Regions from separate parts of the Homo sapiens genome. Here region 1 is linked to region 2. Evidence: fine-mapped expression QTL. A gene starts in region 2. The other region holds a variant in brackets. All regions are shown on one strand. Distances are from middle to middle.

Evidence for each region. PIP is the estimated chance that this variant, and not a neighbour inherited with it, causes the effect.
Region 1: its variant is fine-mapped to the expression of MXRA7 in lung (TOPMed, PIP above 0.99).

The regions. Positions count from the first base shown.
Region 1 is chr17:76,680,766-76,689,623 of GRCh38, reverse strand. MXRA7 (matrix remodeling associated 7) reads left to right here. Exons shown (of 4, transcript NM_198530.4): 2 at 1,448-1,511; 3 at 4,459-4,552; 4 at 8,745-8,858. The coding sequence ends at 8,757. Among named protein-coding and RNA genes, the nearest start is that of MXRA7, 26 kb to the left of the region's middle. RefSeq lists enhancers at 2,233-3,028, 5,011-5,555, 6,649-7,195. The variant G/A (reference allele first, on the strand shown) is at 3,953.
Region 2 is chr17:76,706,508-76,715,365 of GRCh38, reverse strand. It overlaps MXRA7 (matrix remodeling associated 7), which reads left to right and starts at 4,401. Exons shown (of 4, transcript NM_198530.4): 1 at 4,401-4,761. The coding sequence starts at 4,420. It also overlaps a transcript of JMJD6 not described here. RefSeq lists a silencer at 4,170-4,379.

The DNA of each region.
Region 1 (8,858 bases), 26 kb after region 2:
GTGTCAAATGGAGCGGCTCCTCTTCCTGCCCCCGGAAGAGGCCTGCCCACTCCGACCTCAGCCATAGAGATACTTTGCTGTGCAAAATTTGGGAAACGTCAGGACACACAGGCACCACTTCGCCATAGATAGCACTAAGTCTGTGTGTACAAAGTGCCCAACAGGGAAGACGCTGTGTTGCCTGCGCAGCTCCCCCCAGGCAGCATTTTGTGTAGTCAAGGAAGTCCCTCAGGCCAGGCACAGTGGCTCACTCCTGTAATCCCAACACTCTGGGAGGCCGAGGCAGGCGGATCACCTGAGGTCAGGGGTTCGAGACCAGCCCGGCCAACATGGTGACATGCCATCTCTACTGAAAACACAAAAAAATTAGCTGGGCTTGGGTGGCGGGCGCCCGTAATCCCAGCTACTCGGGAGGCTGAGGCAGGAGAATCGCTTAAACCCAGGAGGCAGACGTTGCAGTGAGCCGAGATCGCGCCACTGCACGCCAGCCTGGGCAACAAGAGCCAAAACTCTGTCTCAGAAACACACTCAGAAAAAAACAGAAACCAAACAAACAAAAAGTCACTCAGAGGAGCTCAAGGCCCCTCTGGGTTTGCCACTTCCGACCCGCTGTGGGGCTTGTAAAAACTTTGCCTCCCGGCACAGCTCAGTGTTTTGTTAGGGAGCCTCCCGTGAGCGGCCGACGCTGGCTGGGCTCCATGGGATCAGCTGGGGCTGCTCATTCATTCATTTCCACATCTACCCACTGGGCTTCCAAGTTGAAGTTCCTGGGGCTCCCATGTCCCCTCCCCATGACCTTCAATCCCACAGAGCCCATGGGCACGGCACGTCGCTCTCATCCTCTGACATTCCTGCAAGCTGAAGTCACTTCTTCCTTCCACCAAGGCCATCCCGGGCCATTCCTCTGATCATCTGTTTATTGTGTCTCTGTGTGGGAGAGAACTGGCTGAAGAGGTGGGGCTCCAGTTTTGGGAACATGGACACTGAGAGAGTTGGGGATGGAAAACAACATAGAAGGAAGCAAAGCCAGAGGCTGCGATGGCCATGCTGCCTGGCCCTGGTCCCAGACAGACACCCCAGCCAGCTTTCCTCTTGCACCCTTTGTCTGCTGGCCGCAGCGTCGCAGTGGGAGTCCTGGGCCCACTTCTCCAAATGGCACACAGAAGCCTCAACAGGCACCCACCTGGGAAAGGCCAAGGCCGAGGGCTTGGGGTGCACAGTCAAGAACACGCCTCAGCTCAGCATTTGTGAGCCGAGTCACTTTGGCCCATCGTTTGTACACAGCCCCCACCTGCTGGTTGACCATGACCACAGGGCAGGCGCTGCCACAGGGCGTGGGCAGGCTGGACCTTCGAGGGCCTCCTCTGTCTCCCCTACCTTCTGCCCCCCCACCACTTCCCATCACCCAGTCTGTGCCAAGGGCACTGACCCTGTCCTTGTCTTGCAGGAAGAGGAGCAGGACTTGGATGGTGAGAAGGGGCCATCATCGGAAGGGCCTGAGGAGGAGGACGGTGAGTGGGACCTCTGCGCTCATGAGGGGGCCTGACAGTGTCGGGGGTGGTCTGTGTCCTGCTGGGGATCACAGGAGCTGGGGTTCGAGTGCCGAGGGGAGGGATGGGGTGGGACAGTGGCCTGAGTGGGGCATGAGAGGTAGAGTCTGGCGCCATGGATGTCCTGCCCTGGCCTGCCTGTAGCCCTCCCTCACCCCCATTGCACTTTGGGGCTTGGCTTTCCCATCCCGGGGCCCCTCTTGGGAACACACTACACGCCCTGCCTGGCTCTGTCCTGCGCTGCCTCCTAACTCCCCTTTTGTGACCGCGCTGTACATTTCACGATTCTCTCCAAACATCTCTGACCTATTTTACTGAGACGAAAACCACTCACACGGCCTCCCCCGTGCCTTCTTCAGAACGAAGGCCCCAGGAGGGCACACGCCTGCTTTCTAAGCAGCTCTGGCTGACTGGCCACAGGCCCCAGCCATGAGACTGAGAGGAGAAAGGGAGTGACCGAGAACAGGGGAGACACTGCCAGATCGGACCCGGCCAGGACAGACAGAGGCGGAACCAAACATGGAGTGGCTTCTGCTGGGTCCATCCACTTATTTCTCTAAAAAAGAAAGCGGAGGCAGACATGCAAGATGTCAGCGTTTGTTGGCTCTGTGTGGCAAGCACAGGGAGGATTAGTGCTTTCTGCATTTTTGTATGTTTGAAATATTTCATAATTTTAAAAAAGCAAGTCTGCTTTTGTGATGTTAAGTCGGCTGCTGGCAGGAGCAGTGGAAAGAGAAGGTTTCAGGAATGTAGGAACCAGCTCCTGCGGGCAGGCTGGGCTGGGGTGCAGAGCTTCCCCTGAGGCAGTGCCTTGGTTTCCATCAGCACAGCCTGAAGCAGGAGGGGAGAATGAAGCTTGGGTGCAGGCGGTGGGCTGCAGGTGGGGACATTAGTCCCTTACCAGGAAGGACCCTTGCTCCCTGCTTTTGGGGACTGGGGACTCACCGCAGCCATGGCCCTGGCATCTGTCCCTGCCATGTGGCCTGAGACAGCTGAAGGGATGCAGGGATCCTGTTAGTGACTTGGGGACACGGGAGGGAGGCCCTTTGGCAAGGACAAGGAGAGAGGCTCGCAGACCCCTCTCCCTGGCATAGCTGCCAGAGGGCACAGTCCCCCAGCACTGTCACCAGCCTCCCCCCTTATCTGCACCGCTGCTCCTGAACATCCCCCACCCCCAGCGCCTCCTGCCATCTTAGCCTCCTGCCATCTCTAGCAAGGCAGGGAAAGGAAAGGTTTATGGCTCCAGCTGTTGGAAGAATGTGTGAGCACCTCCAGCCCCTCTGCAGTACGAGGCAGCCTCAGAGGTTAATTATTAGTGTCGCTAAAATGACTTCCCTGAGCGACTAGGTGAATTCACAGGAGACTGGAGGAAGAAACCTCCCCCGTCCCTCGGAGGCTGTCACGTTGAATTCTGGTCTAGCAAAACTGGATGCGCTGCCTGGTGCACTGCATGTGACTGAGCGAAATCCTTTTCAAGTCGTTTGTTCTGTCTGGCTCAGAAAACAAAACTAATCAGACTTGCCCCATAAATTGAAACCTAAGACTGGGACCAAGGCAGGATTTTGTATGTTTTCTTTTTTTGGGGGGTAGGGGGATACTGGAATCTTACTCTATTGCCCAGGCTGGAGTACAGTGGCGCGATCTCGGCTCACTGCAACCTCTGCCTCCCGGGTTCAAGCGATTCTCCTGCCTCAGCCTCCTGAGTAGCTGGGATTACAGGCGCCTGCCACCACGCCCGGCTAATTTTTTGTATTTTTAGTAGAGACGGGGTTTTGCCACATTGGCCAGGTTGGTCTCGAACTCCTGGCCTCAAGTGATCCACCTGCCTTGGCCTCCCAAGGTGCTGGGATTACAGGCATGAGCCACCACACCCAACCAGATGTTTGGGTTCTGAATTCGCATCTAGAACCTTCTTCCTTTCACCCTGAGAGCCCCCCCGCCTCCCCATCGGTCCACATCAGCCTATCCGGTAGCATGAAGGCTGCAAGCTAGAGGGGAGGGGCCTGGCTTTTCGGGCTGCTGGACAGGATATGGAGGGACAGAGAGGGCAGCACTTCCAGAATAGCAGCTGAGGATCTCTCTATGCCTCCCTCACTGGGTCCTTTAGTTAGTGGAGGTCGATAAGAGGCCAGCCAGCTCTGCCCGACACCTGCTGGATTCAGGAACCAAGAGGTTGCTCCCCCATGGGGCTTTTCCCTCTGGAAGCTCAGCTTTTCTCTCCTCACCGTGGCTCATGTGCCCGGAGCCTGTGTCCACTCCAGGCCACAGGTCCTGGCTTCCTCTGTGCCCACCACCTACCCATCCATGTGCCCTCTTCAGGCCTCGAGATCTGTCCGTTTTTTGCAGGCAGCAATGGGGGGTCTCCCCTCGGGGACTGGCAAATCGGGCTCTGCCTCTTCAGC[G/A]GTACACACGTCAAACCTGCTGCAGCAAATCCCGCATCCCTGGCCTGGCCACTGTGGGCTGCCTGGATGCGTGTTTTCAGATTTCCAATAGCCACAGGGGGTGGGGGGATGACACAAGCCTCCCCAAGCCCAGGCAGGCGTGGTGTGTGTCCCAAGATGAGCTGTGCTCTGCTTGCCGGAGTTGTCGCCTCTGAGCTCAGTAGCCGAGAGGACCTGCTGGGCAGGGCCAGGGCAAGGCAGAGCACTGCAGATGTTGGGAGGGATGTGGCATCTGGAGACAGCTGTGGACTAGGAGTAGGACTGCTTTCTCTCTGGCTGTCTCGTTGTAGGATTTAAGGGAAAGCTATGGAACGAGAGGGGGTATAGGCGCTGGGGTGAGATGTCTCTGATAGCCAGATGTGGCCTCTGCTTGAGGTGTTTCTTTTTAAACCTAGGGAAAGGGGGCCGGGGTTTGTGGGGCCAGCCTCTACAGCACTCCTGGCACTTACTGGGTCCCCCCTCCACAGGAGAAGGCTTCTCCTTCAAATACAGCCCCGGGAAGCTGAGGGGAAACCAGTACAAGAAGATGATGACCAAAGAGGAGCTGGAGGAGGAGCAGAGGTAGGCTGCAGCCCCTTCGCTGGCGCCTGGCGGGCTCTTGGGGGAGGGGGGTGCCCCTCTGAGCCCTTCATGTTCCTGCCCCTTGGCAGAAGGGCCCAGAAAGGAGGTGGGGCTCCTACACGCTCTGCCCAACCACCGCCCCACCTTCCCAGTTTAGGAGTTCTTTCCTGCCCTGGTCAGCCAGGCTCGCACACCCCTGGCACCCCTCCCTGGCACTGACCAGAAGGAGGCCACTGGTGATGGGGGATACAGAGCCCATTTACTGCACCCCCCCACCCCCTCCACACCCCACTGCCCCCATCTAAAGAAATGAGATGCCAGGAAAGAGCCTGGAGCAGACCTGGCTGTCACTCACACACACAGTCCCCAACAGAGCTGATTTCTCCATTTCTCCTTCGGGACACAGCGGATTCTTGGTGCTCATCCTTCAGCGGCCTCCCAGGCCGGCGCCTGCAGCAGCGCCTTGTAGCTCCGGGCAGTGCAGCTATGGCTTCTCGTTGTTGGAATTGGCTCCCCCTTCCCATTTGGACACCCCCTGCACAGCCACTGGGCACCCCGCCACCTTTTCCCTCCACACCATCCTGCTGGGCGGGGAAGGGGTGCGCTGGGCACAGTGGGACAGCTGGGGAGGTCTCAGCAGAGGGACAGTCCTTTGCACCAGGCGCAGCAGGCTCCTGGTGCTCACCCACACTGCTGCCCTTCTGCAGCGTGGCCTGGAGTCCTTTGGTTAAAGCAGAAGTCTAGGTGGTAGCTGTGCCATTTTCCAAGCCTGGCGACCCAGAGCAGCTTGTGGGAATCACCCCCTACTTGTCAGCAGAAACCAGCGGTCTAGGGTCCGAGCAGGAGGGGTGGTTTATGATTTTGGAATCAGAACTCAACTGCCCTCTCATGGCTGCATGCCAAGCCACCCGCCGGGCAGCCCTCTAACCTCACAGCTGCTCTGCCGGTGACAGGCCCTGTCTCCCCTCCCGCTGCTGGCATCAGCGCTCTCGACCCTCAGCAGGAAAGCTCTTCACCCTGGGTGGGTGGGGGGCGGGCAGTGTAAGCACAGCCAGGAGGAAGAGCCCTGGCAGGAGCCCCGAGTCCTCAGGTGCTGAGGATGCTGCCGCTTGGCATGACCAGGTTTGCTGCATTTATATTTCAGGATTGAGCTGACCTCTGACCTCACTTCCCTGTAGCAAGTTCCTTAGGTCCTGAGCCACAAATATTCTTGCAAATCCTTTTGGTAAGGACACTGATTTCTTAGACTAGTGGTGCTCCCCTTCTACTGCGTGCTAACGTGCCCCCAAACAACTGACGCGGCCTCAACCTCCCCTCCTCCATCGCCTTCATAACCGATTAATACATTTCCCACCTGAGCCCTTCTCATTCTTCTCAAGCACGAGGAATCTCTGGCAGAAGAGGCCCCGTCTGGGGGCAGAGGTTCCTGGAGGGGAGTTAAGTCCCTGAGTTCCTGGAGGGGGCCTAATGGGCCGGCAGGTTGGGGTGCTAGCGCCCCCTCGCAAGGCTGGGGGAACTGTCACCCTGGGACCTCAGGCTTCGGAAATGTGGATGTCGTCACCCTGCAGCCTTGGGTCTCACCCTGAGAAGATGAGGCAGCTTCTGCACAGTGCACAGCAGATACTCTGAGAACGGTCCGTGCTCCCAAGCTGTGAGACAGGCAGGTTCTTAGGATCAGGGCAAGGGTTAGCAGACAACGGCCGGGCCACATCTGATCCCCCACCTGCCTGTGCCAATCCAGCGTGGCAGTAGTAGCAACACTCACCCATTTTCCTGTGGTCTGTGCCTCTTTGTGCCGCAGTGGCCGAGGTGAGTCACTGCAGCAGAGACCACACAGCCCCCCAAATCTAAGTAGTATCTGGCTGTTTGCAGAAAAAGGTTGCAGTCCCTGGACAGAGGCTAGAGGGGGCTGGACACAACTGCCAGCCCTTGAAGGTCCCTGGGGACAGAGGCTGCTCAGGCAGATGGATCTGGAGGGCCTCTTAGAACAAGAAAGACCAGGCCTCCGGCTGGGGGTGAAACTGCCACTGCCACCCACGTCCAGAGCTGGGACCTTGGCAGTGGGGAGGGAAAATCCCTTCCCCTTATTTTCAGAGAGTAGACCCTCTGCTGCCCATCCTTCCCCCACTGGATCTTTGGAGGTCTCTAGACCACCAACCCACACTTGGCTGTTCTGTGGGACCGAGACTGTGCCCGAGGTGCTGCTCCTGGGACGAGGGAAGACTCCTCGACTCCTCTGCATGCTGCAGTTACCACTTTGTGCCCTGAATTGAGAAGGAGGGGCCGGAGGACTTCTTGGGGCAGGACTGGAGTTCACGTTCATTCCCATCACTGCCCAGCCCGCATGCTCCCTGTGGCTCCTAGGCATGCCGGTGGCATCTGCTTGCTCCCCCACACCTCTGCCCCCCTGCATGTGGTTGCCCCTCGCAGCACTGCGTGGGGTCTCCGCGGCTCCACATCACGCTGTCCTCACACGGTGATGCTTGGGGTTGCAGAGGCTGGTCAGTTTGGCTTTGGCTCTTCATCTTCAGCACGATGGTTCTCATGGGGGTGGGGAGCGCTGGCAGCTGTGAGACAGTTCTGGTCCCAGCCAAGTCCAGGGAACCGCCCTAGAATCATCAGTATGAAAAATAACATGCCTGTTGTTATCAAACCACTAAAACCACAGGCCAGCTAGCAGGGTGCTCTCTCTCCGCCTGTCAGGTTCCACCCTCCCGGCCTCCATGCCTCTGATGCCTTTCCCAGCTCTCAGGGTCCAGTCGAGTTGCAGCTACAAGCTGCACGTCCCCTAACTTTAAATTTACTAGCTCAGCCAACAGATCTGCATCTAGAACCTGAAGCTTTAGTGGTTGCCAGTTCCAGCACTCCCCAGGAGCTTCAGTTCACAGGCTCTCATGACAATTAGGAAGTGGGACTGGAAGCAGAAGGCCCCCAATTAGTTCCCCGACATGCTGAAGTGGTCAGTCTCATCCTTGAACTACTCACAGATCAAATTCCTTCCGCCTGGGGCCAGAAAGCGGTCAGGTCTGTAAATCCAGAGGCAGCTGCTGCTTAAGATCCTGCTTGCCACTGTCTGCCCGCCTCCTCAGCTCTCCCCTCGGGCCGGAGTTTCACACACTTCATGCCTCTGGTGGCGTCCCTGGGTTCCGCTGAAGCTGCTGTGGGAAGTGCCACCTCCAGTTTCACAGTGTGGCTAGGACAGTGGGCTTGCAGGCTGGTGACAGCTCCCCTGAGCAAGAGGCCTCCTCCTCCTCCCCCAGAGCTAGGGAAGCTGGCAGGGCTTGGCTGGCTTCACAGCTTGGCAGGAGAAAGAACAGGCGCGGCTGTCAGCTCCTCTCCATCACTTCTTCCCACCTTGTGGTCTCAGAGGGAAAATGAACCCAGGCTATAGACTGGGCTGGCTCTGATAGATCAGGACCCACCCCTCCATTTGAGGTCTGCAGGGCTGTCTTGACTCCTCTGGAAATGGACATGACTCTAGAGGAAGGTGCTAGTGTGGTAAAACAGGGAAGGGGAGGAGGAGGCCAAGGAACCCCAGCTGTGGGGTAGTTCTGGTTCTTCCATCTGATGTATGCAAGAAACTACAGACAATAGACCTGCCAGTGTGAATTTCCAGCTCAGGCTGGAAATGCGTGCTGACTGTGACCACCAGGAGAGGGCGTCAGAGGGACAAGATCAGACCTGCTGGGTTCTCAGTGGTCCCAGGGCTGGCAGTGTGTCTTGGTTCATAAAAGACGGGCATGCAGTTGGCTCCATCTGGAAGCGTGCATCCTAGGGTGCCAGTATCCCCCGAGGGGACAAAACTCAGCCAGCGGGAATGGGAAATTATCTAGGGTGATAGGAATATTGTCAGCACAACCACACAACCCAAGATCAGAAAGGCCCTTGGCAACTCAAATGCCCAAGTTCCTTCCTTAAGTACCCTGCAGAGGCTGAACAGGGTCTGTGGGCTGCCAGGTTCTGTGCGGGATCAAGGGGAGCTCTGCAAGCTCTGGCCGGCTTGGCGGCACAGACTGTCTTGCTGCAAGCGATGAGAAGCAAATCAGCAGTGGTTTGAGAAACCAGAGTCTAGCGCAGCTTCTGCAATTCCAAACATTCTCCTTCCTCGTCCCCATTTCCCCCTTTCCTTGCCCATGGTGCAGGATGGAATGAGTAAAATAAATTATCTTTTTCTCCCCATTTCTCTTTACAGAACTGAAGAATAACGAAGTTATCCTTAGCGTCCTCCTAAAGGCTTTTCCTTTTGGCATCTTAAAAGCTTGAGAGATAAAACGGAAACCCCAGAGAGGAGTCTGGGCAGGCTCCC
Region 2 (8,858 bases):
AGAACTGTGCTGCCTGCCTGCCATGGGGGCTGCTCTCCCTCCTTACCCCCACGCCCACAGCCCCCTTGGTTCTGTGGTGGGCACAGGATGTGTTTGGGTGTGAGTAAAGTCAAACTCTGAATGTATAATCTCTTGGTAGTAATATCTGAGTGGTGTTGCTACTCCTGCTTTTTAAAAAGACTTTTCTTGCCATCTATAAAAAGCTTTTTTCTTTTTCCCAGCATTGCTCCTGTGCTGCCACGCTTGCCCTTTTTCCTTACCTTCCTTTCAGTTTTCTATCAACAACTCCTCTAAACTTCAGTTTAAAATAAAAAACAGCCCAAAAAGGCTCTTTGCCACCAGGGGGCGTGGTAGGACACGTTGCCAGTGGTCTGGATAGGGGAGCAGAAATTTTGAATTTTAAAAATTAGCCACCAAGGCCAGGTGCAGTGGCTCACACCTGTAATCCCAGCACTTTGGGAAGCTGAGGCAGGGGGATTGCTTGAGTCCAGGAGTTCAAGACCAGTCTGGGCAACATAGTGAGATCCCATCTCTCAAAAAAATAATAATCTAGAAAATAAAGATTAGCCACCCAGTTTTCTTTCTCCAGATGCTAAAGTTGATTCCTGTTTGATAACAGTATTCCAGAAATGAGGGGAATAACATATCTGATAGGCCCAAGTCAGCTCTGGATAGTACAGTGTCTGGATAGTACAGATTCTGTGCTCCTGGGACATGCTTTGTTTATTCCTGCCAGGCCAGGGATTCAGCAGCCCTATTCCCCAACCCCCGTTACTGTCTCTGTGGGCTAGCCAGGCTGTCCGTTATGTAAGCACAACAGGGGCAAGGTGGGGAAACCGTGTGTGGAAAAGGAGTGGAGTGGTGGCGGGTGGCCAAGGTAGACTAGGAAGAGTGGGTACCCAGAGACCACTTGTTCAGAAGTTAACTCCTCTTCCCATCTGGCGTGAGCTACTCCATTGAATGGTGCCAACAACAGTAAAGTGAAGGAGATAATGTTAGATTATTTTCAGGGATGATTCTCCAAGATGACAGCAGATCTTAAAACCAAAGAGCTGGGTCCTGGAAGAAGGGATCTTGGATTATTAACTTCTGATGGAAGGACCAGAGTGGGAGAGAGAAGAGTTGGGGACCTAGAACATCAGGAGGACCCTGGGTCTTTGGGGATGAGGCTTCACCATCAGCTGGAAGAATCCATGCTTCACACACATGCCTCTGCCATTAGTGGTACTGGGATGTTTAGGGTGACATCCTTGAGGGGAGAGCCACTGAAAAGAGGGACATTCACATTTTGCTGTATTCTTGCAGCTGTCCGTGTCTTAATAATTCAAGCGTTCAATAGGTGTTTGAGGGCCAGGCACTGCTCTTGAGGTGCTGGAGATAACGGTGACAAGCCCAGGTCCCTGACAAGCTCCACAAGCTTAATGGACAGTGAATGTGCGGCTGTTGCGGCTGTTCACAGGGCCGCTGGTGAGGGCAGGTAGAAGAAAGTGCAGACCTTCTTAAATGCAGGTGTAACGGATCTACATGAAAGAGCATAATTAACACCAATGTATACTTAAGGTAGTAACAGCTTCTTCATAAAGTAGCAAAACTAAGGATCTGTGGGAAGGTTGCTGGTGCAAATGCTTTATAAGCTTACTAGAGACTGAGCCTTGGATTTAGGACTTTAGACGAGTATAGGATGGAACAAAATTTTTGCAGTAAATGTAAAAAATGCTGTGTAGGAGGAAGGCGTATAAGGATGCCCCAGCTGTAGGTTCTTTAGATTGTCTGTAGTATTTCCACGAGTAAGTTGTTTTTGATGTGTGTACTGGTATTGCTGGTAGATTTGAAGTGGAGTCTGGCGGCTTCTTCCACACTCCCCTCCCACTAGCTTGTGTCAAGATGTGACATCCTATGCAGCAAAACTAGGTGAGCTTGCACCCCCAGGCGGTGGCTCTCAACTTTGTCTCATTGTTCAGAAATTTCGGCCAGGCGCCGTAGCTCACCCCTGTAATCCCAGCACTTTGGGAGGCCATGGCAGGTGGATCACTTGAGGTCAGGAGTTCAAGACCAGCCTGGCCAACACGGTGAAACCCCGTCTCTACTAAAAATACAAAAATTAGCCAGGTGTGGTGGCACATGCCTGTAGTCCCAGCTACTTGGTCAACTCAGGCAGGAGAATCACTTGAACCCAGGAGGCAGAGGTTGCAGTGAGCTGAGATCAAGCCACTCCAGCCTGGGTGACAGACCGAGACTCTGTCTTTAAAAAAAAAGAAATGTCATCTAAGCCCCAGTGAACCTCCTGGGAGGAGAGCTAGCCCTGGCCAGCTGTCTCCAAAGTGACTGGATGCTACAGAAGAACTGGGACTGTCTTCTGCACACTCGTGCCTCCTGGAGTTGTCAGAACACTGAGCAGTCTCCTAGTTCTGCGTCCGTCTAGCCATGGGGTCTGCCATGAAAGCCTGTGGATCTGCTATTGGGTTGGTATTTTAAACTTTCACTTGGGTGAAACTTGTTCATCATTTTAAATAAAGCAACATGATTTGGAGTTGTGTTTTTGGCATTGTTTTGTCCTTATTTTCTTTCTTACTCATTTGAAAGTCAACAATGTACTTTGTCAGCAGAACAGGACTTTAAAAAAATGTATTTACACTTTAAAACAATGGGATGGAGCACAAAATTAAGGCCCTGGGCCAGGAGCATTGATGCACACCTGTAATCCCAGCTGCCCAAGAGGCTAAGGCAGGAGGATCACTTGAGCCCAGGATGTCGAGGCTGCAGAAAGCTATGATCATGCCTGTGAATAGCCACTGCACTCCAGCCTGGGCAACATAGTGAGACCCTGTCTCTTTAAAAAAAAAAAAAGAAAGAAAGACCCTGTCTCTTTAAAAAAAAAAAAAAAAAATTGGCTGGGCGCGGAGGCTCACGCCTGTAATCCCAACACTTTGGGAGGCTGAGGCAGGCAGATTGCCTGAGGTCAGGAGTTCAAGACCAGTCTGGCCAACACGGTGAAACCCTGTCTACTAAAAACAGAAAAAAATTAGCCGGGCATGGTGGTGGGCGCCTGTAATCCCAGCTACTCAGGAGGCTGAGGTGGGAGTTTCGCTTGAACCCGGGAGGTGGAGGTTGCAGTGAGCCGCGATTGCGCCACTGCACTCCAGCCTGGGCAACAGAATAAGACTCCATCTCAAAAGAAAAAAAATAGGCCCATACACTGGCTGAAACTTCCACAGTGGTTAAAAGCTAGTCGCCCGTAGATAAAGCCTATTTCACATTTTATAGTTTATAGGCTCTTTTCATCAACCACCACTAAAAGGAAGTGCATGGCCCGCTTAATATCGTGCAGTGCAGCAGAATTCAGCTCTCCCTGTTGCTGAGGGGTCTCGTTTGTGTATCTTCATTTAAAAAGAAGCACTCCATCTAATATCTGGTTTATATCACAGATCAGCTCAGGCACTGTAATATTCCCAAAAAAGTATTAAAGGCATCCTCAGCAAAAACTGGAACCGTGTTTTTTTTAACATTAGGCCTTATGTTTGGCGTGATACCTGACATGCCCGTCCTGTGTTTATTTAAAATAACTAAAGAGTGGGTGGGGAGTGGTAGGAAAGTATGTTTTTGGTTACAACGTGTTTATCTCAAAATCCACTGTTCAGCAACAGAGGCCTGGGAGGATCTGGAGAAACAAAAACAATAGCCTTCATTTCCTTCATTGTACCCTCCCACCCTGCATGCATTCTGGAATTGTGCAAAGAAGAAAGTCTGGTAAGAGGAATAGCGTTGACCAAGGACCTGCAGCTGAATTTCAGGTCTAGGGGCGGGGGAGCCATGTTACTGTTAACAGGGAGGCCTGTGTTGAAGGCTGCTGGCCTCAGCTCCGAAGGGAGCATTCACTGGCCGGGATCTGGAGATGTCCTCTGTGAAAGTGCATTAAGGCAACCCTGAGGATTAAAAGCAACTCCTGACATGCCTATAAAAACGGCAGTGGCTGAACGTAATCCGGCATTATGATTGCTTTACAAGCCAATCCAGGCTGCCGTTTCCATGAAGCTTCCCGGGTTTGCTTGTCTCTCTGCATTCCCACATTTCCAAAATGCTCTAAGACGAACCGCCGTACTAAGGCCAAAGATGACAACCTAAGGGCACCTCATACAGTATTTCAAATTGAACCTGAGCTAAATTGTGCCCCAAAGCGTCAAGGCTGCCCAGGCCGGGCAGGGGTTGGCCCTCCTGTGCCTCCCAGGTGGTCAGGGCTCTGCCCCCTCAACACCCCCGCCCGCAGCCTGTGCGTCACCCTCCCGGGGCCGGAGGGGGCGGGGGCGGGGCGCGGCGATGGGGGCTCCGCCCCGAGGCGGGGCGCGGCGACCGGGCGCGGCGACGGGGCGCGGCGGGCTCCCTCGGGGTCCCAGCTGGCCCGCACTCGGCGGCCGCGGCGCGATGGAGGCGCCGGCCGAGCTACTGGCCGCGCTGCCTGCGCTGGCCACCGCGCTGGCCCTTCTGCTCGCCTGGCTACTGGTGCGGCGTGGGGCGGCCGCGAGCCCGGAGCCTGCCCGCGCGCCCCCGGAACCCGCGCCCCCGGCCGAGGCCACCGGGGCCCCGGCGCCGTCCCGCCCCTGCGCCCCCGAGCCGGCGGCCTCGCCCGCGGGGCCGGAGGAGCCTGGAGAGCCCGCGGGGCTGGGGGAGCTCGGGGAGCCTGCGGGACCGGGGGAGCCCGAAGGGCCAGGGGATCCCGCGGCGGCGCCAGCGGAGGCGGAGGAGCAGGCGGTGGAGGCGAGGCAGGTACGCACCGGGGCCCTCGCGGCCCCCTCCCCACCCCCGGGGCTCCGGCTGCCGCTGCCGTTCCCCGCCGAGCCAGGGAGCGGGGCCGCGGCCTCCAGCCCAGGCTGCCCCCAGGAAGCGCAGAACCCGCGGCCCGCAGGAAATGCAGGTCCCGCCATGCTAAGCCGCAGCCCCGCAAACTCGCCGCCCTCCCCCAGAAAGTGTGGCGAGGGGCGAGCCCGAAGGAGTTTGTTTGGAGGTGTTTTGCTCTCCCCTCCCCTCGGCCTCTCCCAGCCCAGGGCGTGCTCCGCAGCTGCTGGCTCCCAGGCCTCGGGACCAGGGCTTGGAATTTTGCTCCTCACCCACTTCTGACCCCTCCCGCCCACCGGTTCCCAAATCCACGTGCCTGTGGCTTATTTCCAGGCCTGCCATGAGAGTTATCTTGATGTTTAAAAAGTAGGACTTTCGGGGGGCGAGGGAGGAAAGCTGGCTTTTCTTTTTCAGCCAATTTGAAGTCCAGATTTCAGAGTCAGTGCTGTGGCGTTTTGTGAAGCCCGTGGGCTGGGACTGAAAGAAAAGGCACCCGATCCCAGCAGTCCTTTTTATTGTCGTTTTCAAGCTACACATCTAACACCCTCCTACCCCCACTCCCCCGGGTTGTAGGTAAGCTGGGCCTGGATGGAGTGAAGATGCAGGATAAAGCCCTCCTGGAGCACCAGTGAGCACCCCAAAGCGGCCCTCCCTGCCTCTGCCCCAGGCCTCCCGCCATGCTGTCCATCAGCTCGGCCTTGGCCACCTTGTCCTGCCTGTGGATATCTGAGAGGAGTCGGATTTCCCTCATCCACTCATCCCAGCCCCTACACTGTGTGCCCATGTTCCCTGGAGTTCACCACGCTTGGCCGGTCCAGGCCACCGCCAGGGTCTCCGAGTCGGATTGTAATCCCTTGTTCTTACCCCTGAGCTCCTTTTCTTGGAAGGGAGGAGAGCCGGGATGCGCATTGTCAGCGTGCCTGCGTGTCTGCGTGCCCACTCTGTCCTGTGCTGGACACAATGGTTTACCCTGGAGAGAAGCCCTTCGGGGGAGGAGGAGGCAGCCAGGCTGTGCTCAGAGGCATTTCTCTTTGCTGAGTAAGTGCGCCAGACCCCCTCTGAGCAGGCGCTTTGCTTGACAAGTGGGTGACTAATTGTGTCATTAGAGAGGATTCTAACCAGCCACATTTAATGGGGTGGAGCAGGGGCAGGCCCTGCCGTTCTTGCTTGGGGTGGGCTTCCAGACCTCACGCGGTGATGGTGGAGGGGGCGCGGTTTGGACATGTGCTGATCTGTTGTGTTTGCTCCCATATTTGGGATTCCTGCCTCCATCGAGGTCTCGCGGGAGCAGGAGAGGCCTTTAGACAGTTCTGGAGCCGTCATGCACACTCAGTCAGTCCTGGCCTTACAGGGCTGGCCCTTTATCACCCACACCAGGCTCTGGACTGAAGTGCAAAATGTCCTTTAGCGGCGCCCTGTCTTAGCTCAATCCTGTGGGGCACAGCGCTTAAAGAACTTTCTACAAGGCTTTCGGCTCTCAGCACATGGTACCTACAGGAATAGGTTCAGTGGTGTTTAAATAGGGCCACTCGCATAATTTGCCACTGTCTGGGTGAATGCACGTCCTCTGAAGCTGAATGGGTGCTCTGAAGGACAAGGCAGTATGGGGGTTCGCGTGCCAGGCAGCCCCCATGACATAGGTGCCAGTGAGGATGACTTGAGGCTTGTGTCTGTCCTCCCGCTAAGGCACCCTCCAGAGAGAACCCACCCCACAGGAGAATTCAATTGAAGTCAGTGCCCTTCCCCTTTGGGTTCAAGTCCCCAGGCCTTCCTGAGCTGGCCAAAGCTCCCCCAAAACTCCTGCCTGCAAACATTAAGCCAGGTGCTGTGGGGACACAGATATTGTGTCATCCCACCCACTCCCAGTGGTGGCATTAACCTAAGAAGCTGCTTAGAAATTGTCTTGATGAGCTTCGAGTCAGTGACAAGAAAAAAAAGAAAGGAAAACAAATTGTCCTGAAGTGGACTCCAGCGTTTCCAAGAGCTTCCAGTGCTTTCTTCTGATGATCACACTGCTGGGGCTTGGAGGACAGATAGGGAGAAAGGCCCCCTGGGGAAGATAACTCAAATCAGGGTTGGGAAGTGGGGCTATGCCCTCTGCCAGCCTCCTTCTCCCTCCGTCCCTAAGCGAACCCCACCAACAGCGAGGGAGGAGGGCAACTCCACCTGCTGTTAGCTCGGAAGTCACTGCCCTGGGGAGCAGCGTGTAACTCACCTCTCCCCTCCCTCTTCATTTTCCATTAACTGCCTCCTTTCTAATCCAGTCCTCTCCCTTCCCAGGGAGGCCTGGGCGGGCTGGGGCAGCTGCTGCCTCTGACTACAAAGCTGATTATTGAGAAGGATCTCTCGCCCCGGGAAGCAGCCTTCAGCTGCTATTGGGGATCGCTCAGGAGCGTCCCCTAGTGCACGGTGCCCTCTTTGGCCAAGGACAAAGTAGTGGGGAGGGGCTACTATAGGCCGAGACCCTGGAAATGGACCAAAGAAATGGGGATGAGATCAGTGCAGCTCTTGCTTCCCCAGGGCAGCACAGGCCAGGGCAGGGAGGCTGAGGAGAAGCGGAATGATACTGCTAGAACCTCTTTTCTCTCCTAAGGATTAGCACAGGGTGGGCTGTGAGGAAGCATTATAGGCAAGGCCTGTTCACGCAAAGAATCATGAGCCAACGAAGTCAAGAACAGGAGCCGGCCTCTTTTCAGGCCAGGACTCAGGGCTTTCTTGGTGCTCCTGTGTAGGTTGGGGTTTTAGGATTGCCAGGCCTCTTACCTAATGGACTTGTGGATTGGAGCAAGGCTGGATGGTCGGATTCCCAAACATTGGTAATTGGCAAAGCGTCAAGGGTCATTTGAATAGCACTAGAGTTAAATTTCTTGTCTGTGCCAGGACTCAAGTATCTCGGTACTTGGGGCCTAGCTCTGCTCATAGACAGACTAGAGCCCGGGCGCGATGGCTCACACCTGTAATCCCAGCACTTTGGGAGGCCGAGGCAGGAGGATCACCTGAGGTCAGGAGTTCGAGACCAACCTGGCCAACATGGCGAAACCCCGTCTCTACTAAAAATACAGAAATTAGCCAGGCATGGTGGCGTGCACGTCATCCCATCTACTCAGGAAACTGAGGCAGGAGAATCACTTGAACCCAGGAGGCTGAGGTTGCAGTTGAGCCAAGATCGTGCCACTGCACTTCAGCCTGGGCAACAGAACGAGACTCCATCTCAAAAAAAAAAAAAAAAAAAAAAAAAAAAAAAGAGTAGGGACTTCCTGCAAGGCAGTGGGCCGGTGTCATGAAGCACACAGAGACTCTTCTAGATTTAATTGGGATTTAGGAGATTAAAGCAATATGACAAATAAATACAATCTTGATCCTTGATTGGATTCTCCATCAGAGAAGGGAGCTATAAAGGACATACTGGAGATAATTGAGACATTTTTTAAATGAATGGCTGTGTTAGGTAAGCTTATTGAATCAACGCTGAATTTTTTGTGTACGATACCGGCAGATGGCTGTGTAAACAATGTCCTTATCCTTAGGAAGATGCAGGCTGAAACATTTTGGGATGACATGTCATGATTCAAATAGTTACATGCACACACACACACAGTGTGTGTGTGTATAGAGAGAGAATGCAAAGATGGCAAAATGTTAACCATTGGTGAATCTAGGTGAAGGGTGTATGGTATTCATTGTATTATTATTTCAACTTTTCTGTAGGTTTGGAATTTTTCAAAAGAGAATGTTGGAACAAAGAAGCCAACATTCTTCTTTGGGAAATTTCTTGGGAAAGGGGTTGGTTTTTCAGACACTCTGGAGGTGGTGGTCTGAGTGGGTAGCACAGCCTTCATCTGTCTGTCTTAACCATGTGACTTGGCCCTGGTTCCCCTGAAGTCACCCTGCTGTCAGGTCCACCTGTGTCCTCTGCCCTCACCAACCTGTTCACCATAGGTGTGGGCTCTGGAAGCTACAGAGACCCCAGCCTTCCCAGAATGACCCAGGAGCAGGTGAACTTCCCCATCATCTCTCCTGCCTTTGTG